Linked DNA regions of Homo sapiens: region 1 is linked to region 2. Evidence: fine-mapped expression QTL. A gene starts in region 2. The other region holds a variant in brackets. All regions are shown on one strand. Distances are from middle to middle. Region 1 has its middle 16 kb from the start of GSTP1. Region 2 holds the start of NUDT8 (nudix hydrolase 8).

The links. PIP is the estimated chance that this variant, and not a neighbour inherited with it, causes the effect.
Region 1: its variant is the best candidate, but not a certain one, in a credible set for the expression of NUDT8 in prefrontal cortex (GTEx, PIP 0.89).

Annotation. Positions count from the first base shown.
Region 1 is chr11:67,560,998-67,573,824 of GRCh38, forward strand. No RefSeq gene overlaps it. Among named protein-coding and RNA genes, the nearest start is that of GSTP1, 16 kb to the right of the region's middle. RefSeq lists an enhancer at 1,987-3,186. The variant G/A (reference allele first, on the strand shown) is at 8,756.
Region 2 is chr11:67,619,325-67,633,622 of GRCh38, forward strand. It overlaps NUDT8 (nudix hydrolase 8), which reads right to left and starts at 10,613. Exons shown (of 4, transcript NM_001243750.2): 1 at 10,394-10,613; 2 at 9,595-9,727; 3 at 8,999-9,076; 4 at 8,614-8,927. The coding sequence starts at 10,587. The coding sequence ends at 8,622. TBX10 (T-box transcription factor 10) reads right to left here. Exons shown (of 8, transcript NM_005995.5): 5 at 13,624-13,779; 6 at 13,279-13,346; 7 at 12,994-13,088; 8 at 11,979-12,570. The coding sequence ends at 12,281. It overlaps LOC124902696 (a long non-coding RNA gene), which reads left to right and starts at 615. Exons shown (of 2, transcript XR_007062741.1): 1 at 615-1,212; 2 at 6,730-8,069. RefSeq lists enhancers at 1-570, 6,289-6,818, 12,642-13,171, 13,700-14,229, 14,230-14,298 and 2 more and silencers at 9,154-9,448, 10,016-10,165, 10,456-11,245, 11,366-11,535.

The DNA of each region.
Region 1 (12,827 bases), 59 kb before region 2:
ATCCTCAAGTGATCCTCCCACCTCAGCCTCCCAAGTAGCTTGCAATAACTCCTATTATTTTAATGTCAATTCCTGGTAAAGGGGCTGGGTATGGTGGCTCATGCCTGTAATCCCAGCACTTTGGGAGGCCGAGGCAGGTGGATCACTTGAGTCCAGGAGTTCAAGACCAGCGTGGCCAATATGGCAAAACCCATCTCTACAAAAAATACACAAATTAGCCAGGCGTGGTGTTGTACGCCTGTAGTCCCAGCTACTGGGGAGGCTGAAGTGGAAGGATTGCTTGAGCTTGGGAGGTGAAGGTTGCAGTGAGCCGATGTAATGCTACTGCACTTCAGCCTGGGCAATAGAGTGAAAACCTCCTCTAAAAAAAAAAAATTCTGGTAAACAACTTAGGGATTGCCTCTTTTCTTTTTCCTTAAAAACCAGCTTCTAACTGCTGCTAATCAGAGTGTACATTTAGGGCAACTTGAGTCTGTGCTCCCAGGCGGCCACCCTCAGGCTTTAGACTCTATACTTAATAATATTTTCTGAATCTTGTTTTTGTTGTTGTTGTTGTTGTTTGTTTGTTTTTTTGAGACAGTCTCACTCTGTTGCCCACGTTGGAGTACAATGGCGCAATCTCGGCTCACTGCAACCTCTGCCTCCCAGGTTCAAGCGATTCTCCTGCCTCAGCCTCCCGAGTAGCTGGGATTACAGGCTCCTGCCACCTCACCTAGCTAATTTTTGTACTTTTAGTAGAAACGGGGTTTCATCATCTTGGCCAGGCTGGTCTTGAACTTCTGACCTTGTGATCCACCTGCCCTGGCCTCCCAAAGTGCTGGGATTACAGGCGTGAGCCATTGTGCTGGCCTGAATCTTGTTATTTAAAGTCGACATTTTGCACCCCAGATGGAACCTGAAGGGAGCCTCCAGCGATCCCACCGCTTCCCCAGCAACCAGAGCCTTGGTACCAGCATGAGCAACTTACTCACTTTACTTTGCCCAAGCCAGCAAGGATTTCTAATAAGGCCCCTCTCAGGGCCGAATTCCTCCCAGGTTTGGTTGTGAATTCAGACTTGCTTCAAGCTACACATATTCTTTACTCGGTGGGGTTGGAGTCAAAACTCTACTGAGAGGTGGGAGTTTCATCTGTTATTCTCTAGAGACTCTGCTGATCACATATTCATAATTTTCAGTTTTCTCCGAGGTTAAGATTTTGTTTGTCTTACTCATTAGAATTTGCAACCTTTTTTCTCATTTCAAATTTTGATCAGGGAGAAAATAGTTTCTCTCCGAAAAGAGAAAGTGAAATCTTTGTGGCTTCAGTGTCAAATCTGTAATCTTTCAAACTGGCCAGGTTCTGAGGCTCGGTTCAATGGTCTAAAACTGAGTGTTCCTCCTGAAGGCAAGATCCACATGAAAACATAGGCTGGATTTGTGTTTAACACTGTGGCGCGCCTCTTCATGCAAATATTTAGAAAACTGGTCATGCATAACTTGTGATGACCCAGCTTATAATGGCCAAAATGGAGGACTTTGAAATGCCTACATGAGTTCATCTGCATGCACAACTGGAAAAAGCTGGTTTTAGGAGCAGACAAATGGGGCCGGGCGTGGTGGCTCACGCCTGTAATCCCAGCACTTTGGGAGGCAGAGGCGGGCGGATCACTTAAGGTCAGGAGTTTGAGGCCAGCCTGGCCAACATGGCAAAACCCCATCTCTACTAAAAATACAAAAATTAGCCGGGCGTGGTGGCAGTCGCCTGTAATCCCAGCTACTTAGGAAGCTGAGGCAGGAGAATTGCTTGAACCCGCGAGGCAGAGGTTGCAGTGAGCCAAGATCACACCACTGTACTCCAGCACGAGACTCTGTCTCCAAAAAAAAGAACTAAACAAATGGAATGAGCGACTTACTTCCAATAGCACCTAGAAGCTTCTAAAAGACATTCTGAGAGAAAAAATTGCCTCCATTCAAGAGGTAAACAAAAGGATATTTGAAACTAGTTCTAAATTAAGAAAGACTTCGGAGGCTTTTTCTCTTTCTCCTCCAGCTGCCCCTTCGTCCTCTCCCCTGCGATCTGAACTCACCTCTCTCTGCTAGTTCCCTCGGCTCCCATACATCTCTCAGGCAGAGATTTTTGGAATTCCACAATACACACATTTCCTTCTCTCCAAAGGGGGGAATGTGTCTAAATTTGGAACAAAGGAAACAAATGGAACCACTTCACAATGAGAATGACTTACTAACATTATAAAATACAGATCCAACATTTTTTTTTCTCTAAACAAGGATGAATGAATGACACTGATGATTTATTGACCCAATATCGGACAATACCCTTTAAAAGCCCTGCTGGACTTCACAGTCCCTTGGAGATGTAAATCTTACCAGGTATTTGAAATGTTAACTTCCAGGGAATTGGCTAAGCCATGTTCTAGTTGAGATCAGATCTGAAACAAGTTAAAATCCTTTACATGTTCAAACTGCCTGCTTTGCTTCTGCTGCAGGCCTCACAAAGCAATGGGATCTGGTGGCTATGATTCCGGGCATTCACAGCGGCAGCCCGGGTTGGACTCCTGGTCAGGGAACCAGTCTTGTTTGTTTTAAATTATTGGAGTGACTCTTCACCTTTTGGGTAGCCATTTGTTATTGGTCCTCGTCCTTCCCATGGGCAGCTTCCGATTTCCTGTTTTTTCCCATCTGTGGGGCATATGGGGATTTTGAGCCTTTATGCATAGGTGGTCGGCTGAGAAGGTGACATCCTGGAATATGGCTGGACAGAAATGTGGGTCACGCTCCATTTGCAGCTTGTGATGTCAGAGGCATTTGAACCAGAGCAATTCCATCTTGAATGACCTACTGGGCTGCATTCCCAGACGGTTACGGAATTCTGAGTCACAGGATGAGATAGGAGGTTGGCACAAGATACAGGTCATAAAGACCTTGCTGATAAAACAGTTTGCAGTAAAGAAGCCGGCCAAACCCCACCAAAACGAAGATGGCGGCGAGAGTGACCTCTGGTCGTCCTCACTGCTACACTCCCATCAGCACCGTGACAGTTTATAAATGCCATGGCAACGTCAGGAAGTTACCCCATATGGTCTAAAAAGAGGAGGCATGAATAATCCACCCCTTGTTTAGCATATCATCAAGAAATAACCATAAAAATGGGCAACTAGCAGCTCTCGGGGCTGCTCTGTCTATGGAGTAGCCATTCTTTTATTCCTTTACTTTTTTAACAAATTTGCTTTCACTTTACTCTATGGACTCACCCTGAATTATTTCCTGCGTGAGATCCAAGAACCCTCTCCTGGGTCTCGATCGGGACCCCTTTCCAGTAACAGTGAGACTTTTCCTTCTTTGAGCTGTCTTTAGGGTGGTTCTGGATCTCGTGAGGATCACTTTGCACTTCTTTGGAGATGTCTTGTGTGTTCTTGGCTAAGTCATAACCTTGGTTAAGGGTTACTGGTTTTGGTGAGTCACTTGAAAAGGAACTTTTTTTTTTTAAGGTGAATTAAATGTTCATAAATGATAGGCCTTCAGGTAAAGTAGCCTTTCTTCTTTTTCAGAGCTATCCATGCTGAGTCCAGGCATGGAGAATGCTTTCTTTGCTTCAGGGTGAAGCTCTTTAATAAGCTTCACCCTGAAGTCAGTTATGTGATCAAGAAACAAGCTAAGACCGGGCACGGTGGCTCATGCCTGTGATCCCAGCATTTTGGGAGGCCAAGGCAGATGGATCATCTGAGGTCAGGAGTTCGAAACCAGCCTGGCCAACATGGTGAAACCCCGTCTCTACTAAAAATACAAAAATTATCCAGGCATGATGGTGGGTGCCTGTAATCCCAGATACTTGGGAGGCTGAGGCAGGAGAATCACTTGAACCTGGGATGTGGAGGTTGCGGTGAGGCAAGATCATGCCATTGCACTCCAGCCTGGGCAATAAGAGCAAACCTCCATCTCAAAACAACAACAACAACAACAAAAAAAAACAATTAGCCAGGCACGGTGGTGCACGCCTGTAATCCCAGTTACTCAGGAGGCTGAGGCAGGAGAATTACTTGAACCCTGGGGAGGCAGAGGTTGCAGTGAGCCAAGATTGCACCACTACACTCTAGCCTGGGTGACAGAGCAAGACTCTATCTCAAAAACAAACAAACAAACAAACAAACAAACAAACAAAAAACCGAAAACAAAAAACAAAAAACCCCAAAACCAAAATCAAAAACTCTGCTTCTTCTGTGTGTCTTTACACCTCTATATCTATATATAGATATATAGATTTTTCTTTTTGAGACAGAGTCTCACTCTGTCGTCCAGGCTGGAGCGATCTCGGCTCACTGCAACCTCTGCCTCCCGGGTTGAATTGATTCTTCTGCCTCAGCCTCCTGAGTAGCTGGGACTACATATGTGTGCCACCACGCCTGGCTAATTTTTGTATTTTTAGTAGAGATGGTGTTTCACCATATTGGCCAGGCTGGTCTCGAACTCCTGACCTTGTGATCAGCCCGCCTCGGCCTCGCAAAGTGCTGGAATTACAGGCATGAGCCACCGCACCCGACCACGTCTATATATTTTTATATGTCATGTGTTTGTGATATTTCACCGCCAAAATATATGAAAGAGCTCCAATTAATTAGCTTACGGTAAAAGAAAGTGTTTTAATCAAATGTTTCATCAGGAAAACAGAAACTAACTCAAAAATCTTTTAGTTCACATGACTTGGGTACATTTTTGGTAAATAAGACTAGTTCAATATTGTTGGCTTGGCTGGGCATGGTGGCTCATGCCTATAAACCCAGGACTTTAGGGGGCCGAGGCTAGAGGATCACTTGAACCCAGGAGTTTAAGACCAGTCTGGGCAACATAGCGAGATTGTGTCCCTACCAAAAAAAAAAAAAAAAAATTAGCCAGGCACAGTGGTGTGCACCTGTAATTCCAGTTACTCAGGAGGCTGAGGTAGGAGGATAGCTTGAGCCCAGGAGACTGAGGCTTCAGTGAGCCATGATCATGCCACTGCACTCCAGCCTGGATGACACAAAAAGATCCTGTCTCAAAAAGGTGAGATCCTGGAATGTGGCTGGACAGAAATGTGGATTGGAACCCATTTGCAGCTATAATAAGATAGTTGGCTTAATAAAAACAGCTCTCAGAGAGAATAAGAAAACAAAAAACAAAACAAACCAAAAAACCAGCTCTGTCTTCTGATCAGCAAAATACCCATGTATGTAAGCTGAGATTGCGCCACTGCACTCCAGCCTGGGAGATGGAGCGAGACTCCTTCTCAAACAAAAAACCAAAAACTGACAAGGGGGAAAGTAAAGTAAATTTATGTTCGAAAGTTGAATGCCAACATTCAACAGAGCTCTTAGGTGATGACTGCCTAACATTTGAAGGCTATAAAAATGATTAAGAAAGAAAGAACTTAGGAGGATGGTGAGCTTTGTTTATTGAAATATTCAAGCATAATTGTTGAGAATGAATAAATTAAATAAATGTCAATGGGGTAAAAGTTTAAAAAGGAACTTTTCATAGTTTCAAACATCTTTTGCAGAAACTTAATGCCGTTATGTTAACGACATATTAAGTAATTCATCATCATAAAATGTCTGAGTTGTTTATATGGTATAGAAAAACTAAATATATTTAGATCTGTTAATAAACAAAAAACCAATAAAACATTTTTCTAAAAATATTATGAAATGGTTTTCATCTACAAATACCGGTATAAAACAGTTTAAGGCCGGGCACGGTGGCTCACACCTGTAATCCTAGCATTTTGGGAGGCCGAGGCGGGTGGATCACTCGGATCAGGAGTTCGAGACCAGCCTGGCCAACATGGTGAAACCCCGTCTCTACTAAAAACATACAAAAATTAGCCAGGCATGGTGGTGGGCGCCTGTAATCCCAGCTAGTCAGGAGGCTGAGTCAGGAGAATCGCTTGAACCTGGGAGGCAGAGGTTGTGGTGAGCTGAGATCACGCCATTGCACTCCAGCCTGGGCGACAGAGCAAGACTCCGTCTCAAAAACAAACAAACAGAAAGAAACAGTTTAAAATGACATACTTCCTAGGTTTTTCACTGCAAATTAGGATTACTAAGAGTTAAAATTTGGCAGGGTGCAGTGGCTCACGTCTGTAATCCCAGCACTTTGGGAGGCCGAGGTGGGTGGATCACGAGGTCAGGAGATCGAGACCATCCTGGCCAACATGGTGAAACCCCATCTCTACTAAAATACGCAAAAAAATTAGCCGGGCATGGTGGCGCATGCCTGTAGTCCCAGCTACTTGGGAGGCTGAGGCAGGGGAATTGCTTGAACCTGGGAGGCAGAGGTTGCAGTGAATGGAGGTTGCACCACTGCACTCCAGTCTGGTGACAAAGCGAGACTCCATTAAAAAAAAAAGACTTAAAATTTTAGTTAATATATGTAAGTAAAAATACTAACTATAACAGAAACAATTCTATCTATAGAGTGTATACAGAAAGTAAGACATGTTTTTGGTTGGAAGGCTGAGGCAGGAGGATTGCTTGAGCCCAGGAGTTTGAGGCTGCAGTGAGCTATGATCATGTCACTGCACTCCAGCCTGGGTGACAGAGTGAGAACTGGTCTAGAAAAAAAAATGTGTTTTTGGTAAATAAGTTGAAAAGAGGGAATATGCTTTTCTTTTGCATGAGAAAACTCTGTGTGGTTAAACTGACAAGGGGGAAAATAGGTCGAGCATGGTGGCTCACGCTTGTAATCCCAGCACTTTGGGAGGCCAAAGCGAGTGGGTCACTTGAGGTCAGGAGTTCGAGACCAGCCTGGCAAACATGGTGAAACACTGTCTCTACTAAAAATACAAAAATGAGCTGGGCATGGTGGCACACACCTGTAATCCCAGCTACTCAGGAGGTGGAGGCATGAGAATCGCTTGAACCCAGGAGGTGGAGGTTGCCGTGAGCCGAGATTGTGCCACTGCACTCCAGCCTGGGAGACACAGCGAGACTCCATCTCAAACAGAAAAACCAAAAACTGACAAGGGGGAAAGTAAGGTAAATTTTTGTTCTAAGATTGAATGCTAACATAAAAAAGGGAGTATAGGATAAAACTGAAGGTTTAAGCAAGTCGTAGATTTACAGGAGATTAATCTCATGAGAGAAATTTTGTGTGTGATCAAGTTGGTTAAAATTGGAAGGGAATTATTTATAAGTTTTTCTAAAAAGCGAGCATTAATATCAAAAGCACTGATGCAAGGCCAGAGGCTGAGCCTGTGTCGGAACAACAGGGTTTTCGCTCAGCAGTGACCTGCTCTTTAATAGAAAATCCCAAGAGGTAAAGAAAGATTTATGGAAATCTTACCTTGTGTGGTCAAAGCTGACTGAGATTGGTTGAATTTGTTTGTAATATTTTATTAAAATTGGCTTTCATATTGATAATACATTAGTATAAGGTAAAATTTGGTTTTCTCCTTTGAACAAGAATTTAGCGTTGTATTAATAAGAGATACTAGGCCGGGCGCGGTGGCTCATGCCTATAATCCCAGCACTTAGGGAGGCCGAGGCTGGCGGATCACGAGGTCAGGAGCTCGAGACCAGCATGACTAACATGGTGAAACCCCATCTCTACTAAAAATACAAAAATTAGCCGGGCGTGGTGGCGGGTACCTGTAATCCCAGTTACTCGGGAGGCTGAGGCAGGAGAATCTCTTGAACCTGGGAGGCGGATGTTGCAGTGAGCCGGGATCACACCACTGCACTCTATCTTGGCTGACAGAGCAAGAATCCATCTCAAAAAAAAAAAAAAAGAGATAGTGAAAGATTTGTTTACCTTTTGAATAAACTGCAAAAAAAAAAAAAAATGAGTGGGAGAGTTTGCCTCAGGCTATCTTTATTGGGTATTTAAATTGTTTAGGAAACTGAGTCTCCTCTCTAATCCAAGAGTAAAGTTTTTTGCTTTTTGAAATCTTTGAGTTATCATTTTGGCTAAATTAATAACTTTTTAAAAAAATTTTCTTAGAGGCCAGGCATAGTGGCTCACGCCTGTAATCCCAGAACTTTGGGAGGACGAGGCAGGTGGATCACTTGAGGTCAGGAGTTCAAGACCAGCCTGACCAACATGGTGAAACCTGGTCTCCACAAAAATTAGCTGGGCATGGTGGTGCATGCCTGTAATCCCAGCTACTCAGGAATTACAGGCAAGCTGAGGCAGGAGAATCACTTGAACCCGGGAGGTGGAGGTTGCAGTGAGCCAAGATCGCACCACTGCACTCTATCCTGGGTGACAGAGTAAGACTCCGTCTCAAAAAAAAAAATATTTTTTCTTAGAGATGGGGGCTCACTTTGTCACCAGGCTGGAGTGCAGTGGCAAGATCATAGCTCACTGCAGCCTCAAGCTCCTGGGCTCCAGGGATCCTTCTGCCTCAGCCTCCCGATTAGCTAATAATATTAGCCTGGGCAACATAGTGTGACCCTGTCTCTATTTAAAAAAAATTTTAAATATTAGCAAGGCTGGCTAATATTTGACTTTTTTGTTTTTATAGAATCAGAGTCACACTATGTTGCCCAGGCTGTTCTCAAACTCCTAGGCTCAAGTGATCCTTCTGCCTTGCCTCCCAAAGTGCTAGAATCACAGGCATGAGCTACTGCACCTGGCCTAAATTAATGACTTTTATTTTATAGTAACCTGTATCCTATTTTGATTATGTGTTTTAAACCTTACTTATTTTATTTATTTATTTAATTTTTTTTTGAGATGGAGTCTTGCTCTTGTTGCCCAGGCTGGAGTGCAGTGGCGCGATCTC[G/A]GCTCACCACAAGCTCCACCTCCCAGATTCACGCCATTCTCCTGCCTCAGCCTCCTGAGTAGCTGGGACTACAGGCGCCCGCCACCACGCCCGGCTAATTTTTTTGTATTTTTAGTAGAGATGGGGTTTCACCGTGTTAGCCAGGATGGTCTCGATCTCCAGACGTCGTGATCCGCCCGCCTCGGCCTCCCAAAATGCTGGGATTACAGGCGTGAGCCACTGTGCCCGGCCAAACCTTACTTATTTTAATATCAAGTGTTTTGAACCTTTAATATTTGACATACTTCCAAAAATTAAATTTCAAAATTTTTGTTTTTTTTGAGACAGTTGTTTCACTCTGTTGCCCAGGCTGGAGTGCAGTGGCGTGATCTCAGCTCACTGCTACTTCTGCCTCCTGGGTTCAAATGATTCTCCTGTTTCAGCCTCTTGGTAGCTGGGACTACAGGTGCACACCAACATGGCTGGCTAATTTTTGTATTTTTGGTAGAGGCGGGGTTTCACCATGTTGGCCAGGCTGGTTTTGAACTCCTGACCTCAAGTGATCCACCCGCCTCAGCCTCCCAAGGTGCAGGGATTACAGGGGTGAGCCACCACACCTGGGCACCTAATTTAAATTTCAAATTTAGAAAAATTTTTGACATATTTCCCAAAGTTAATTAAGTCTTTTTTTATCTGAACTATCTTGGACACAAGAAATAGGAGCCCTTGGAAGTCCAAGAGAGAAATACTGGGCTTATTTGGTATGTTAAAATCATATACGGAGCATTGTCAAATAAGAAATGGTGTTTAACTTTCTTTTTTTTGAGATGGAGTCTCGTTCTGTCGCCCAGACTGGAGTGCAGTGGCACAATCTCGGCTCACTGCAACCTCCACCTCCCAGGTTCAAGCAATTCTCCTGCCTCAGCCTTCTGAGTAGCTGGATTACAGGCGCACCCCATCACACCCAGCTAATTTTTGTATTTTTAGTAGAGATGGGGTTTTGCCATGTTAATCAGGCTGGTCTCGAACACCAGACCTCGTGATCCACTCGCCTTGGCCTCCCAAAGTGCTGGGATTACAGGCATAAGCCACCACGCCCAGCTGGTGTTTAACTTTCTTTGAGTTATATTTCTATAAATGTGTTATTAATATGTGTTCCAAAATTGTATGAGATTCTTAAAATGACATGTCTCGGTATATGTTTTCAGTGATAATGTTGTTAAATTTTTGTATGTCACAGAAATAACCAAGTTTCCTTGTCAGTTGCATCTTTAACCATGGCTAGTCTAAGTTTTTTGTCATCCACAGACAATTATTGTTTTACTTTGATTCTCAAAAATTAGTTTATAATCAGCTACAGTCCAAAATTTGCTTCTTAAGGAAATTCACAGAAAACGATGCTGAAAAGTACTCTTGAGTATAGGTTTCCAGTAAATTTATTTATTAATTAAATATTTGTTTGCTTGTGTATGTTTTTTGAGACAGGGTCTCACTCTGTCACCCAGGCTGGACTGCAGTGGTGTGAACATGTCTCACTGCAGCCTCAACCTCCTGGGCTCCAGCAATCCTCCTACCCTAGCCTCCCGAGTAGCTGGGACTACAGGCATGCACCATCACGCTTGGCTAATTTTTAAATTTTTTGTACAGTCTTTCTGTGTCACTCAGGCTGGTCTCAAACTCCTGACCTCAGGTGATCCTTTTGCCTTGTCCTTCCAAAGTGCTGGTAAGATAGGAGAACAGGGAATTAGGGTAACAAAGGGTTAAGGCATAAGCAAAAAACAGCAGGGGCAGCCAGTTCTAGGCAAGATTAGGCAGCACGCAGGCCACGTCCTCACTCCTGTGATAACAAGACAGGAGTCTCCACTTCTGCCTCCGATTGACCACAGGCAGGGTCTGCACTTCAGCCTCTGATTGGTCACGGGCCAATCGCTTACAGGGTGTAACCAATTGGAAGCCTCTGCAGGGCACCTATGGTGTTACCAAATTCTTTTGGCTTAATAAAAACCCTGAAGCATATTGTAATTGGGGCTGCTTGAGCCTGCTCCCACTCTGTGGAGCGTACTTTTGCTTTAATACATCTATGCTTTCATCTTCTGTTGCTTTGTGCATTTTGTTCAGTTCTTTGTTCAACACGCCAAGAACCTGGACAACTCACAGTCAAGACTTTCCATCTGGTAACACTGGGACCACAGTCACGAGCTACCGCACCCTGCTCTGGTAACTTTAGAGATCATACCACTGAACTAAGTAAAAACTTCCAGAACCCTAATAAAGAACTGATGCATTCATGAAGATTGTGAACACAACATCAAGCAGAACGAGAATTAATTACGTAGGACAGAACCGATAGGGGACTAAAATGATTTTTATGACTTTTGTTTGTTTGAAACGTTGCTGATTCTTTTTATATTTTGTTTTCTAGAAACAAGAAAACTTTTTCTTTTGAGCTATTTATAACTCACAGCCATTGGGCAAAGTATACTTTTGTGAGCAAAATTGAAATATTTACCTTTCTCTCTACCTGATTTCTCCAAAATTTGGACACTATTTGTGACGATTCTTATTTTATTGCAATACAGTTATTTGCATAAGTTCAGTAAGACTATGTTTTCTTTTGTAACTGGGCACACTGAAGACACTCGTAATTTTACCAAGGCTTTGACTGTACTGGCATATTTTCAGATACAGCCAGACTGTTTTGAGGAGTTGAGGCTGATTTTATAGAGCCAGTAAAAAGTCCCTTGGAGAGATTGGTCTGGTACCTGGTTTTTATGGTTCCCTTACAAGCTTCCTGACCTTGTGGTGTGGGCGGCAAGCCACCCACGTGCCGAGGCAAGAGACGGAAGGCATGAGCTCTTCCAGCATAATAAAGAAAATAATTAGAATAAGAATAGTTATACTAGAAATAGAATATAGACATGATTATATATGAATATTATCAATCATTAGTTTGTAGCATTACTCTTTATTATATTAATCTCTGTTCTATAATTATTACCTGTTCTATACTTATTACCTAAGGAAAACCAGGCCATACAGAATTAGGAGCTGAAGGGACACGGTGAGAAGTGACCAGAAGGCAAGAATGTGAGCCCTCTGTCAAGCCCGCACAAGGGCCACTAGAGGGCTCCTTGGTCTAGCAGTAACGCCAGTGCCTGGGAAGGCACCTGTTACTTAGCAGACTGGGAAAGGGAGTCTCCCTTTCCCCCAGGGAGTTAGAGAACACTCTGCTTCACCACCTCCTGTGGAAGGCCTGCCATCAGCCAGGCCTGCCCGCAGCCATCCGGAGGCCTAAATGTCTCCCTGTGATGCTGTGCTTCAGTGGTCACGATCCTGGTCCACTTTCATGTTCCGCTCTGTGCACCTGGCCCCGCCTTCTAGATAGCAGTAGCAGAATTAGTGAAAGTATTAAAGTCTTTGATCTTTCCGAGAAATGCATAGAAGAAATAATGACGTAAGCTGTCCCCTCTCTCTCTCCGCCTCGGCTACCAAACAGGGAATGGCCCCGTTCGGTGGACACATGACTCGCGTGACCTTACCCTTACATTGGACTTTACATTGGAGATGACTCACGCTCCTTACCCTGCCCTCTTGCCTTGTATACAATAATTATCAGCGCGGCCAGGCATTTGGGCCTTCGCGTCTTGGTGGTAGTGGTCCCCCAGGCCCAGCTGTCTTTTCTTCTATCTCCTTGTCTTGTGTCTTTATTTCTACAATCTCTCGTCTCCGCACACGAAGAGAAAAACCCATAGGCCCTGTAGGGCTGGACCCTACATTGTGGTAAGGAAAGAATGTCACTTTCTGACAAGCCCAGGAACCTCAAGATATTTGGGACCTTGAGAAGAGAGGAATTCACCCAATTCATACAGGTACTACAGGCACAGGCTGATCATGAATCCATGGGTTGGCTTCAAAGCCTGGGGAGGCTTTCAAAAGTCCAACCTGAGATTCTTCATGAAAAAGCTCCAGCAAAGCCAATTTAAAAGAGCCTGTATGGCCATTCACTATTCTCATTGCACTTTTTACAAATAATCAGGCCAAGTATAATACTAAAACTTATTTGGCAACAAAATCAGCCCTACTAAGATTTCTT
Region 2 (14,298 bases):
CCGTGGGCTCCTGTGTGGCCCGAGCCTCCCCGATGAGCGCCGCCCCCTGCTCCATGGCGCCCAGTCCCATCGACCACCCAAGGGGTGAGGAGTGCGGGTGCATGGCGCGGGACTGGCAGGCAGCTCCATCTGCAGCACCGGTGCAGGATCCACTGGGTGAAGCCAGCTGAGCTCCTGAGTCTGGTGAGGATATGGGGAACCTTTGTATCTAGCTCAGGGATTGTAAATACACCAATCAGCACCCTGTGTCTAGCTCAGGGTTTGTGAATGCACCAGTGGACAATCTGTATCTAGCTACTCTGGTGGGGCCTTGGAGAACCTTTATGTCTAGCTCAGGGATTGTAAATACACCAATCGGCACTCTGTATCTAACTCAAGGTTTGTAAATACACCAATCAGCACCCTGTGTCTAGCTCAGGGTTTGTGAATGCACCAACGGACACTCTGTATCTAGCTACCCTGGTGGGGACTTGGAGAACCGTTGTGTCGACACTCTGTATCTAACTAATCTGGTGGGGACTTGGAGAACCTTTGTGTCTAGCTCAGGGATTGTAAACGCACCAATCAGCGCCCTGTCAAAACAAACCACTTGTCTCTACCAATCAGCAGGACGTGGGTGGGGCCAGATAAGAGAATAAAAGCAGGCTGCCCAAGCCAGCAGTGGCAACCCGCTTGGGTCCCCTTCCACACTGTGGAAGCTTTGTTCTTTCACTCTTTGCAATAAATCTTGCTACTGTTCACTCTTTGGGTCCACACTGCTTTTATGAGCTATAACACTCACCGCAAAGGTCTGCAGCTTCACTCCTGAAGCCAGCGAGACCACAAGCCCACTGGGAGGAACGAACAACTCCAGGCGCGCAATGAACAACTCCAGGCGCGCCGCCTTAAGAGCTGTAACACTCACCGCGAAGGTCTGCAGTTTCACTCCTAAGCCAGCGAGACCACGAACCCACCAGAAGGAAGAAACTCCAAACACATCTGAACATTAGAAGGAACAAACTCCAGATGCGCCACCTTAAGAGCTGTAACACTCACCGCGAGGGTCCACGGCTTCATTCTTGAAGTCAGTGAGAGACCAAGAACCCACCAATTCCGGACACATTTTGGCGACCATGAAGGGACTTTCGCCTATTGCCAAGCGGTGAGACAATCGCTGAGCAGTGAGACCATCACCTATTGCCGAGCGGTGAGACCATTGCCTATCGCCAAGCAGTGAGTACCATTGGACCCCTTTCGCTTGCTATTCTGTCCTATCTTTCCTTAGAATTCGGGGGCTAAATACCAGGCACCTGTCGGCCAGTTAAAAGTGACTAGCGTGGCCGCTGGACTAAAGACATGGGTGTCAGACTTTCTGGGAAAGAGCTCTCTAACAACCCCCGACTCTTCGGAGTTGGGACCGTTGGTTTGCCTAGAACCAGCTTCCGCTTTTCCTGTACTTCTGGGCTGAGCCGAGGGTCGACAGAGAGGAAGGCCATGCAGCTCTGGGGTCCTGACAACATGATGGTTGACCCCGCGGCCATGAGCAGAACTCTCAAAAGCATGTCGCCCAAGCGAGACCCGCCCATCTATCCTATCTATCCTGACCCTAGCCCCCTGGGTCCTAATGCCTGCCAGACAAACTTCCTCTTGCCTCCCTTCTCTGAGGTTAGACCCACTTCTAAAAATTGCTACCTGTCTCTGGTGCTTTTCTAGTTTCTCCGATAAGAATGATTTCTAGTATAAACTCCAGGACTCTGTTACCTTCTTTAGGCACCTGGGCTCACCAATCAGAAAGACATAATTTTTGCCCAAAGCCCCATCGTAGTGGGGACTACCTGGAATTTTAGGATCCCTCCTCACACTGACAGGCCTAACAAAAGCTATTCCTGAAGCTAGGATATGGGGAGCCTCAGAAATTGTATCCTTCCTATTCATATAAGTTAGGACAAAAGATGTCACTCTTCCAACCCTGGAGACCCCTTCCCTCCTTCAGGGTATGGCCCTCCACTTCATTTTTGGGGCATAACATCTTTATAGGACAGGGGTAAAGTCCCAATACTAACAGGAGAATGCTTAGGACTCTAACAGGTTTTTGAGAATGCGTCGGTAAGGGCCACTAAATCCGATTTTTCTCGGTCGGTCCTCCTTGTGGTCTAGGAGGACAGGCAAGGGTGCAGGTTTTCGAGAATGCGTCGGCAAGGACCACTAAATCCGACCTTCCTCGGTCCTCCATGTGGTCTGGGAGGAAAACTAGTGTTTCTGCTGCCGCGTCGGTAAGCGCAACTATTCCGATCAGCAGGGTCCAGGGACCGTTGCGGGTTCTTGGGCAGGGGTTGTTTCTGCTGCTGCGTCAGTGAGCGCAACTATTCCGATCAACAGGGTCCAGGGACTGTTGCGGGTTCTTGGGCAGGGGGAGAAACAAAACAAACCAAAACCGTGGGTGGTTTTGTCTTTCAGATGGGAAACACTCAGGCATCAACAGGCTCACCCTTGAAATGCATCCTAAGCCATTGGGACCAATTTGACCCACAAACCCTGAAAAAGAGGCGGCTCATTTTTTTCTGCACTGCGGCTTGGCCCCAATATTCTCTTTCTGATGGGGAAAAATGGCCACCTGCGGGAAGTACAAATTACAATACCATCCTGCAGCTTGATCTTTTCTGTAAGAGGGAAGGCAAATGGAGTGAAATACCTTATGCCCAAGCTTTCTTTTCATTGAGGGAGAATACACAACTATGCAAAGCTTGCCATTTACATCCCAAAGGAGGACCTCTCGGCTTACCCCCATATCCCAGCCTCCCTATAGCTCCCCTTCCTATTAATGATAATCCTCCTCTAATCTCCCCTGCCCAGAAGGAAATAAGCAAAGAGGTCTCCAAAGGACCACAAACCCCCCCGGGCTGTCAGTTGTGTCCCCTTCAAGTTGTAGGGGGAGGGGAATTTGGCCCAACCCGGGTACATGTCCCCTTCTCCCTCTCTGATTTAAAGCAGATCAAGGCAGACCTGGGGAAGTTTTCAGATGATCCTGATAGGTACATAGATGTCCTACAGGGTCTAGGGCAAACCTTTGACCTCACTTGGAGAGATGTCATGCTACTGTTAGATCAAACCCTGGCCTTTAATGAAAAGAATGCGGCTTTAGCTGCAGCCCGAGAGTTTGGAGATACCTGGTATCTTAGTCAAGTAAATGATAGAATGACAGCCGTAGAAAGGGACAAATTCCCTACCGGTCAGCAAGCCATCCCCAGTATGGATCCCAACTGGGACCTTGACTCAGATCATGGGGACTGGAGTTGTAAACATCTGTTGACCTGTGTTCTAGAAGGACTAAGGAGAATTAGAAAAAAGCCCATGAATTATTCAGTGATGTCCACCATAACTCAGGGAAAGGAAGAAAATCCTTCTGCCTTCCTCGAGCGGCTATGAGAGGCCTTAAGAAAATATACTCCCCTGTCACCCAAATCACTTGAGGGTCAATTGATTCTAAAAGATAAGTTTATTACCCAATCAGCTGCAGATATCAGGAGAAAGCTCCAAAAGCAAGCCCTGGGCCCTGAACAAAATCTAGAGACATTATTAAACCTGGCAACCTCGGTGTTCTATAATAGGGACCAAGAGGAACAGGTCCAAAAGGAAAAGCGAGATCAGAGAAAGGCCGCAGCCTTAGTCATGGCCCTCAGACAAACAAACCTTGGTGGTTCAGAGAGGACAGAACATGAAGCAGGCCAATCACCTGGTAAGGCTTGTTATCAGTGTGGTTTACTGGGACACTTTAAAAAAGATTGTCCAATGAGAAACAAGCTGCCCCCTCGTCCGTGTCCACTATGCTGAGGCAATCACTGGAAGGTGCACTGCCCCAGAGGATGAAGGTTCCCTGGGTCAGAAGCCCCCAGCCAGACGATCCAACAACAGGACTGAGGGTGCCTGGGGCAAGCGCCAGCTCATGTCATCACCCTCACTGAGCCCCGGGTATGTTTAACTATTGAGGGCCAGGAAATTGACTTCCTCCTGGACACTGGCGCGGCCTTCTCAGTGTTAATCTCCTGTCCTGGACGACTCTCCTCAAGGTCCATTACCATCCAAGGAATCCTGGGACAGCCTGTAACCAGGTATTTCTCCCACCTCCTCAGTTGTAATTGGGAGACTTTGCTCTTTTCACATGCCTTTCTTGTTATGCCTGAAAGTCCCACACCCTTATTAGGGAGGGATATATTAGCCAAGGCTGGAGCTATTATCTACATGAATATGGGGAACAAGTTACCCATTTGTTGTCCCCTACTTGAGGAGGGAATCAACCCTGAAGTCTGGGCATTGGAAGGACAATTTGGAAGGGCAAAAAATGCCCACCCAGTCCAAATCAGGTTAAAAGATCCCACCACTTTTCCTTATCAAAGGCAATATCCCTTAAGGCCTGAAGCTCATAAAGGATTACAGAATATTGTTAAACATTTGAAAGCTCAAGGCTTAGTAAGGAAATGCAGCAGTCCCTGCAACACCCCAATTCTGGAAGTACAAAGACCGAGACTAGTGCAAGATCTTAGACTCATTAATGAGGCAGTAATTTCACTATATCCAGTTGTACCCAAACCCTATACCCTGCTCTCTCAAATACCAGAGGAAGCAGAATGGTTCACAGTTCTGGACCTCAAGGATGCCTTCTTCTGTGTTCCCCTGCACTCTGATTCACAGTTCCTCTTTGCTTTTGAGGATCCCACAAACCACACATCCCAACTTACATGGATGGTCTTGCCCCAAGGGTTTAGGGATAGCCCTCATCTGTTTGGTCAGGCCCTAGCCAAAGATCTAGGCCACTTCTCAAGTCCAGGCACTCTGGTCCTTCAATATGTGGATGATTTACTTTTGGCTACCAGTTAGGAAGCCTTGTGCCAGCAGGCTACTCTAGATCTCTTGAACTTTCTAGCTAATCAAGGGTACAAGGTGTCTATGTCGAAGGCCCAGCTTTGCCTACAGCAGGTTAAATATCTAGGCCTAATCTTAGCCAAAGGGACCAGGGCCCTCAGCAAGGAGTGAATACAGCCTATACTGGCTTATCCTCGCCCTAAGACATTAAAACAGTTGAGGGAGTTCCTTGGAATTACCAGCTTTTGCCGACTATGGATCCCTGGATACAGCGAGACAGCCAGGCCCCTCTAATCAAGGAAACCCAGAGGGCAAATACTCATCTAGTTGAGTGGGAACCAGAGGCAGAAACAGCCTTCAAAACCTTAAAGCAGGCTCTAGTACAAGCTCCAGCTTTAAGCCTTCCCACAGGACAGAATTTCTCTTTATATGTCAGAGAGAGAGCCGGGATAGCTCTTGGAGTCCTCACTCAAACTCATGGGACAACCCCACAACCAGTGGCATACCTAAGTAAGGAAATTGATGTAGTAGCAAAAGGCTGGCCTCACTGTTTAAGGGTAGTTGCAGCAGTGGCCGTCTTAGCATCAGAGGCTATCAAAATAATACAAGGAAAGGATCTCACTGTCTAGACTACTTATGATGTAAATGGCATACTAGGTGCCAAAGGAAGTTTATGGCTATCAGACAACTGCCTACTTAGATACCAGGCACTACTCCTTGAGGGACCAGTGCTTCAAATATGCACATGCATGGCCCTCAACCCTGCCACTTTTCTCCCAGAGGATGGGGAACCAATCAAGCATGACTGCCAACAAATTATAGTCCAGACTTATGCCGCCCGAGATGATCTCTTAGAAGTCCCCTTAACTAATCCTGACCTTAACCTATATACTGATGGAAGTTCATTTGTGGAGAATGGGATACGAAGGTTAGTGATGTAACCATACTTGAAAGCAAGCCTCTTCCCCCAGGGACCAGTGCCCAGTTAGCGGAACTAGTGGCACTTACCCGGGCCTTAGAACTGGGAAAGGGAAAAAGAATAAATGTGTATACAGATAGCAAGTATGCTTATCTAATCCTACATGCCCATGCTGCAATATGGAAAGAGAGGGAGTTCCTAACCTCTGTAGGAACCCCCATTAAATACCACAAGGAAATTATAGAGTTATTGCACGCAATGCAAAAACACAAAGAGGTGGGAATCTTACACTGACAAAGCCATCAGAATAGGAAGGAGAGGGGAGAACAGCAGCATAAGCAGCTGGCAGAGGCAGCAGAAAGGAAAGAGACAGGAAGTCAAAGAAAGAGACAGAGAGGAAGAGACAAGAAGTTAGAGAGAAAGAGGGACAGACACAGAAAGTCAAAGAGAGGGTAAAAAAGAGAGGAAGAGACAAAGAAGAAGTCAAAGAGAGAGATGGAAGTAGTAAAGAAAAAACAGTGTACCTATTCCTTTAAAAGCCAGGGTAAATTTCTCTCTACCCAGCCAAGGCATATTCTCTTATGTGGATCTTCAACCCATATCTGCCTCTCAAAGTTGGAAGAAATAATGAAATCTATCCTTACTTTACAATCCCAAATAGACTCTTTGGCAGCAGTGACTCTCCAAAACCGCTGAGGCCTAGATCTCCTCACTGCTGAAAAAGGAGGACTCTGCACCTTCTTAGGGGAAGAGTGTTGTTTTTACACTAACCAGTCAGGGATAGCATGAGATGCCACCCAGCGTTTACAGGAAAAGGCTTCTGAAATCAGACGCCTTTCAAATTCTTATACCAACCTCTGGAGTTGGGCAACATGGCTTCTCCCCTTTCTAGGTCCCGTGGCAGCCATCTTGCTGTTACTCGCCTTTGGGCCCTGTATTTTTAACCTTCTTGTCAAATTTGTTTCCTCTAGAATCGAGGCCATCAAGCTACAGATGGTCTTACAAATGGAACCCCAAATGAGTTCAACTAACAACTTCTACCGAGGACCCCTGGACTGACCAGCTGGCACTTCCCCTGGCCTAGAGAGTTCCCCTCTGAAGGACACTACAACTGCAAAGCCCCTTCTTCGCCCCTATCCAGCAGGAAGTAGCTAGAGCAGTCATCGGCCAAATTCCCAACAGCAGTTGGGGTGTCCTGTTGATTGAGGGGAGACAGCATGCTGGCAGTCCTCACAGCCCTCACTCGCTCGCTCACTCTCGGCACCTCCTCTGCCTGGGCTCCCACTTTGGCAGCACTTGAGGAGCCCTTCAGCTCTGTATCTAGCTACTCTGATGGGTCCTTGGAGAACCTTTATGTCTAGCTCAGGGATTGTAAATACACCAATCAGCACCCTGTGTCTAGCTCAGGGTTTGTGAATGCACCAATGGACACTCTGTATCTAGCTACTCTGGTGGGGCCTTGGAGAACCTTTGTGTCAACACTCTGTATCTAACTAACCTGGTGGGGATGTGGAGAACCTTTGTGTCTAGCTCAGGGATTGTAAACGCACCAATCAGTGCCCTGTCAAACCACTCGGCTCTACCAATCAGCAGGATGTGGGTGGGGCCAGATAAGAGAATAAAAGCAGGCTGCCCGAGCCAGCAGTGGCAACCCGCTCAGGTCCCCTTCCACACTGTGGAAGCTTTGTTCTTTCGCTCTTTGCAATACATCTTGCTACTGCTCACTCTTTGGGTCCACACTGCTTTTATGAGCTGTAACACTCACCACAAAGGTCTGTAGCTTCACTCCTGAGCCAGCGAGACCACGAACTCACCAGAAGGAAGAAACTCCAAACACATCCGAACATCAGAAGAAACAAACTCCAGACGCACCACCTTAAGAGCTGTAACACTCACTGTGAGGGTCCATGGCTTCATTCTTGAAGTCAGTGAGACCAAGAACCCACCAATTCCGGACACACAACCGGCCATGTGACAGGCTCAGGGAAGGACATGTGACTCAAGGCAGGCCAGTGAAGTGCAATTCTAGGTTAGACTGGCCGGGAAGGAGCGGCCGTGTTTTCTGTTGATGGATGCTGCTGCCCTCTCCTCAACCTCTCACGCTCTGCACTACAGACAACCTCCTTGGGGCTGAGGCCAGCACAGCGCAAAGCACAGCAAGAGGGGAGCCCGAGCCCCTGGATCCAGCCATCCTCCACGGCAAGCTCAGACCACCCGCTCCCTCAGCTCTTTCACAGAACCCTGGTCTACCTAGTTGATGTCTTATATAATTCCACTATTATCTGTGATTAATTAATGTGGAACCACATGATTATCTGTGTGACCTGGTCTGAGGTCTCCCCTAGACTGAGCACCCCCTCTGGACGGCAGGTGAGCATCTGACCGGTCCACAGCTGTGGCCCCCACACAGCAGCTGGCACACACAGGGGCTCTGCATGTTAGACTCCTGCAGTAACACCCAGGGGCATGGGTGCGCCTTACTCCTCTCTGGGATCCCGGAGCCCAGCACAGCGTCAGCCAGGCACAGCAGAGAGAACAGGAGGTGCAGGCTGAGACAGGGCAGTGCAGTGCCTAAGAGTCTGGGCTGTGGAGTCTGAGAGCTCTGGTTCCAATCCCAGCGTGGGGCCCTTAGGCAAGGTGTCTCTCCTCCCTGAAAGCAGTCTCACCAGCCAGAGACAGTGTTGGCCCTGCCTTATGGGCTGTTGTGAGGGTGAGATGAATTGACTCCAAGTACTTGGCACCCAGGAAGTGTCCATTGCTGTGGGGCATGGCGTGACTGGAAGGAGGAGCCCCAGCCAGCGACCTGGAGTGGTCTGCCCAAGGTCAAGGCCCCAGTACAGCAGAAGCAAGAGCTCTAGAGCTGTCAAAGACCTTTATTCAGTCCTGGAGTGGAGCTGGCCTGACAGGGTGAAGCCAGGGGCTGCTTAGGGCGGGCCAGACCCTCAGCCCCTGAGCAGGTCAGGCCGGCCAGGCGGGGCTGGTAGGTACCAGGTGCCAGCAGCTGCAGGGCAAACTCAGTGATGACAGCTGTGAGGCCCCAGACCCGGTGTGGTCCATGCAGGAAGACGGGTAGTGTGTAGCGGAAGTGGCCACCCCGGCAGAAGTGGGTATAGCCCTGATTCTGCGTCTGCAGCAGGTGGGCCAGCGGCAGTGCAAACACCTCATCTACCTGCAGGCAGGAGGCAGAGAGGGTAGACAGAGGACTGGAACAGCCCAACCCCCTCATATCCCCCAGCTCACCTCCTCCGAGTTGGGCCTGAGGCTCTGGGGATCCAGTGGGCCTACACCAGCAAGCACTGGCACCACGGTGGCCTTTTGCTGGGGAAGAGGGCAGGTGGTCAGGGAAGCATGGCCTTCGCTGGGTTTGAAGGCTGGGGAGGGGAGTGTGAGAGGAAGACCCCTTTGCCATGCATAGGCCTTTGGTAGTCATGTTCGGGTCCACCTGCCTGTGTCCTCCAGCCATGCTGACTGACTCAGGTCCCCTCAAATGCACTAGACCTGTTCCCTCTGCTTAGGACAATCTCCCACTTGGCATTCAAGCCTGGGTTCAATCCCTGCCTACCCCATGAAGCTTCCCTGACCCTAATCCACCAAACTGAGTGGAGCTGGCCCACCCCATCGCCCTGGGCCACCTCTACTCAGGACACCAGAGCCTCCCCAATCCCTTCCCGAGGGGGTGTGTGGGGTGGTGCATGTGACCAGGCAGGTTAGGGGCACCCTTCCACACTTTGTGCCCGTGGGGGTCCATGACCACTCTCCTGGTCCCTGGTAGCCCAGCTCCAGGGCAGGCACAGAGTGAGTGAATGGGGTGGGGTGGCCTCAGCCAAGTGGCTTACCGGATCATACACAGGCCGCAGCAGGCCCCACACGTGCTCCTCGGGCACTGCCAGGCCCAGCTCCTCCCGGGTTTCCCGCAGGGCCGTGTGCACCACATCTTGGTCAGCCGGGTCGCACTTGCCGCCTGGGAAACTAAACAGACACAAGGAGTCTGGTCCTTGGACTCTTGGGGCCACGGAGAGGTCGGGGTATCGGCAGTGCGGGGGGGGCCACTGGCCCACCGAAGTGTCGCCTGCCTCTGCCCCTAGTTTACTGGGAGGCCCCAGGCAAGCCATGCGACCTCTGGAGGCCAGTTTACCTCCCTGAGCAATGGGGATAAGGAAGAGAGGCCCGGGACAGCGCAGGATAAGAGGGTCTGCAGCAGGGGCAAGAAGATCCTGGGGCTCAGATACCCAAATTCGGCCTATGGTGGCCCCAGCAACACTGACATTGTCCTCAGGATGTTCTTAATTCCCGCCGGGCGGGGCCCGAACCTCTCCGTAGTCGCCGGCAGGGGGCGGCGTCCGCCCTCTAAGCGGGAAACAGCTCAAAGGGGTGTCCCGGCCCAGGCGTGCGCGCAAGGACGCGTACGAGGGGCCCACGCGGCGAGGACGTGGCGCCCCGGCAGGTGCACCGGGGCCGACGGACACGGATCGCTGACCTCTCGCTGCAGCCCTTGGGCGGAGGGACTCTCCCCAGACCCATTTTACGGAGGCGGAAACCGAGGCTCGAAGGGGCTAAGTGCCCTGCCAGAGGTCCCTGCCAGCCCCGGGCTCCTGTAGCCTCCGGCAAAGGGCGAGGAGTTCCCGGCCGCTGTACCTGACGTCGCCCTTGTGCCTCCCGGTCAGGCGGCTGGACCGCAGCGTGTACAGCAGCGCCGGGACCCCACGCACTGAGCAGAGCGGCACGAGCACCGCGGCCGACGCGGGCCGCGCGCGGAGCCGGGCCGTGGCCCCTGCCAGCAGCCGGCGGCAGCGCAGCTCGCCCTCGGCCGACAGGCAGTCGGGCAGCATGTCAAGTCCTGCGCGGCCGGGACACTGAGGGCGCGGGATCGGGCGAGGGAAGAGGCGGGGCGAGGCGGGGCGGGGCGCTCAGCCCGGGTCCCTCCGAAAGCTGAGAGGGAGAAGGGGCAGCCCGCGCGACGCGTCCCGCCTGGGGGGCTGCAGAGCGGCAGCGGCGTCGGGGGGCCTCAGTGGGGTGGGTCTGTTCGTGGGCGGGGCCTTCCCGGAGACGGGGCCTCGGTGGGACTGGGTCTGTTCGGGGGCGGGGCCTGTTTGAAGGCGGGTCCTCGGTGGGACGGGGTCCGTTAGGGGGCGGGGCCTGTTTGAAGGCGGGGCCTCGGTGGGACGCGTTGAGTCCCCCGGATGGGAGGGACGGAGGGCGGCGGGGCGGGGCGGGGCGGGGCCTGCGCGGGAGCCGGACTCGGACGTTACTGCCAAAGGGCGGCGGGGCCTAGTAGGCAATCGAGGTTGGGGCGGGCTGGGGGCGGGGCCTGGACCGGAGCTTTTGCTACGAAGGACTGGGGGGCGTGGCCAGGAGGACTGTGCTTCCGGCAGGGCCGGGCCGTGGCCGGGGGTGTGGCCGCGGGGAGGGAGATGGGCGCGGAGCTGCAGGACCTGCCGGTTGTGTTCTCCGAGATCCTGAAACCACGCGAACCGTGAAGCGCCCGGCGACCGTCCTCGGTCCCGTTGGGTCCTGGCGTTGGGGTGTCTGATGAGGCCCCGCCGGCCCCCACTGGTCCGTCCCTCCCCTAGGGGCTCCAGGATGTACGGAGCCGGGATCCCACGGGGACGCCCCTCCAGGAACCCGAGGTCGATCGGTGCGCGAGAGGAGCGTCCGGCCCAGCCCTCCCTCCGGTCCTCCCTCCCGATACCGCTGGGTGGCGCGCGCCGCCCCCAGTCTTGTCTTCCCCTCTGGCTCCGTCGGACTCCAGCCCCAGGCCTTTGACCTCCTTGTCCCAGCGTCCAGAGCTCTTCTCCCTTCCTGCCTTGAGTCTTGACCGGATTCCCAAATCCCTCCCCCTTTCCTACCTCGGCCCCTGTGGTCACTGACCACCGTGGTTCTGCGCCCTTCCACCAGACCCTGGGCTTGGGGACCAGATGACCCCAGCCTTGCGCACAGCATTTAAACGTGGGGTGGCGGGTGTCCGCCATGCTCTGCTGTGTGACGTTGAGCAGGTCCCGCGCCTCTCTGAGCGCCAGTTTCGATCCTCATCTGGGCAAGTGCAGCCCTGCCACTGGGCTGGAGTCACCACTTTTAATATTACTGTGTGCTCCCAGGGATGCGGACGGCACTGGGCAGAGCTTCGGGATGCCTACAGGGCTGATGTGGGGACTATGATGGGTCTGGGAGTTCCTGAGGCCCCCACCCACCCTGACCACGACGACAGAAGTGCTCTGACCACTCATGCCAAATAGTTTAATGTTAGGGGGAAGGGAGAGGTAAGGCAGGGTTTTCGGGAGTTACCCCCAAAGCAAGAGGGCACAGTATTCAGGCTGCTGGGGTTGGGAGATAGAAGTCCTGGTTCCAAGCTTGCCATGGTCCCAGCCTTGCTGTGACCCTGGGCAGGTAGCCTCTTTCTCTAGACTTTCACCTACCCTGCTCTCCTTGAGACAGAGATGGGGCTGGAGGGGGCGGGGCAGAGGCTGATTCCCACACCCGGTGTAAGGTCCAGGGTAGCAGGGCTTCCCCCCAGGGCTTCTGGCATCACTGGGAGTCCTGGCCAGGCCCCAGGCACACCACAGTGGGGGACAGGAGCCCCAGCCCAGCTGGGAGAGGCAGGCCTCCTTGATCCCTATCAGCCCGGATGTTGGGGAGGGGGTATGGTGCTGGTCGGGTCCTTGGGATCCCTAGGTGGCTCGGGGCTCCAGAGTACAGGCTCTGATACGTGACAGGCCTGTAGGTGGCCGGGGCCAGCAGGACCTCAGGTGGGGGCAGCAGCTGATGATGGAGCCAAGCAGGGGTCTTGGAGGTGGAAGCTGAAGCTTTGTTGGGGTCTGAGGGAGGAAATGAGTGGACTCTGGGCCTCCCATCGCATCCTCATCCCTCATCCCAGGCCTGCCCTGGTCCCTTCCTGCTCCTCCTTCCCAAGTTACCTACCTCTCAGCCTTCGCCTTTGCTTTTCCCTCTGCCTGGAATTTCTTCTTCACCTTCTCCCTCTGTCCAAACCCTTCCCAGTCCTCCAAGGCCCAGCTTGAGAGCCACCTCCTGCAGGAAGCCTGCCTGGCACCCCCTGCCTGTGCTCTTTGCCCTGAGCCCCATATTGTCTTAGGCATGTCTGCTTCCCCCTCCGTGTGTCCACACAGGGGCCCTGTGGGTTCGCTGAGCTGCTGAAGCCCCTTCCTGGAGGTCCTGTCCCTTTGCCTTCCGCCCACTGTGTACACCTTAGTCCCACTATGTCTGCAGGCCTGGGGCCTTACCTTTCTCCCTGTCTGTGGCACCCTTCAGCACACAGGGACTGAGGCTGCTGTGACTCCGGGCTGGGACACTGAGCAGGGGCCGTGGGGCCACAGGCCTGAAAGAGCAAGCGAGAATGGGGGGAGGGGATCAAGGGGAAGAACCCAGGCCAGGGATCATGGCCAGCTTCAGATGGTGGGGCCCCAGGATGGGTCAGAGGGTGTGACCCTGAAACAAGGGTCAGGAACTGAGGCCTTAGGATATGCCTGGGGTGGGGGTGAGGGGCTAGGGTCAGGGTCAGACAGTACCAGGAGTCCAGGTCACTCTCTCTAAAGCCTTTGGCAAAAGGGTTGCTGGCGATTTTCAGCTGGGTGATCTGCAGGAGACAAAGTGCAGTTGTGGGCTGGCCATGAGCCAGGCTCAGCCACCTTGTCCTCCCGGGAACCGGCAGTCAGGAGGCCCTGGCACCTGGGCCTCTTGGCCCAGGAACTCTGAGCTGATAGGAGTGCGGGCAGGGCCTTGACTGATGGCAGATACTCAGGGCAAGTTGGGAGGGCAGTAGTCTGTGCCAGTGAGGGCTGCAAGCCTCAGGGCTCAGTCTCCACCCCTGTGAAATGGGCCTGCAGCGGGTGCTCCCGAGCTGGTTCACCCACCCTGTGGTTCTGATAGGCTGTCACTGCTGTGAACTGGGTCTCTGTGAAGATGAAGGACTTGAAGTTCTCCTGGGCATAGCGCTCACTGTCCTTGCGTGGGTCCACGAAGACCACGTGGAAACGGGGCTGGTAGCGGTGCATAGAGTTGAGAATGATCTGTGGAAGGGACAGAGCAGGGGTACAGGGGTGAGGCGGAGTACAGCGGACTCCCTGAGGCTGGAGTCCTTCCCTCCAAGCCGGGAGACTGCCCTGGGCCTGCCACCCTGTTCCTTTCATGGCAGCACAGGGTCTGAGCTGGAGAGGCTGCAGTTCCGTGTCAAAGGCCCCTTTGGATCATGGATCCTTGCCTCCATGTCCTCTCACACCCCACATCCCAGCTGCCACCCACTGCCTGTGTGCTGGCCCGTCACTGTCGCGTTCACCAGTTTCCTCGGTTGCCTCCTGGCCTGTCCCCTGTCCCCGCCTTACCCCTCTGTTCCTTCTCCACACAGCTGCCCGGGAAGCCACATCATATGCCCCCTGCTCCTAACCGTCCAGCGACTTCCACCCCACACGGTAAAAGCCAGAGCCCCCCGAAGTCAGCCCGACCCCTCAGGCATTCGCCTCCTTGGCTTCCCCTCCTGGCTCCACTCCGGCCCCATGGATGCGTCTTGCAATTCTGCCGGCCCAGGATTC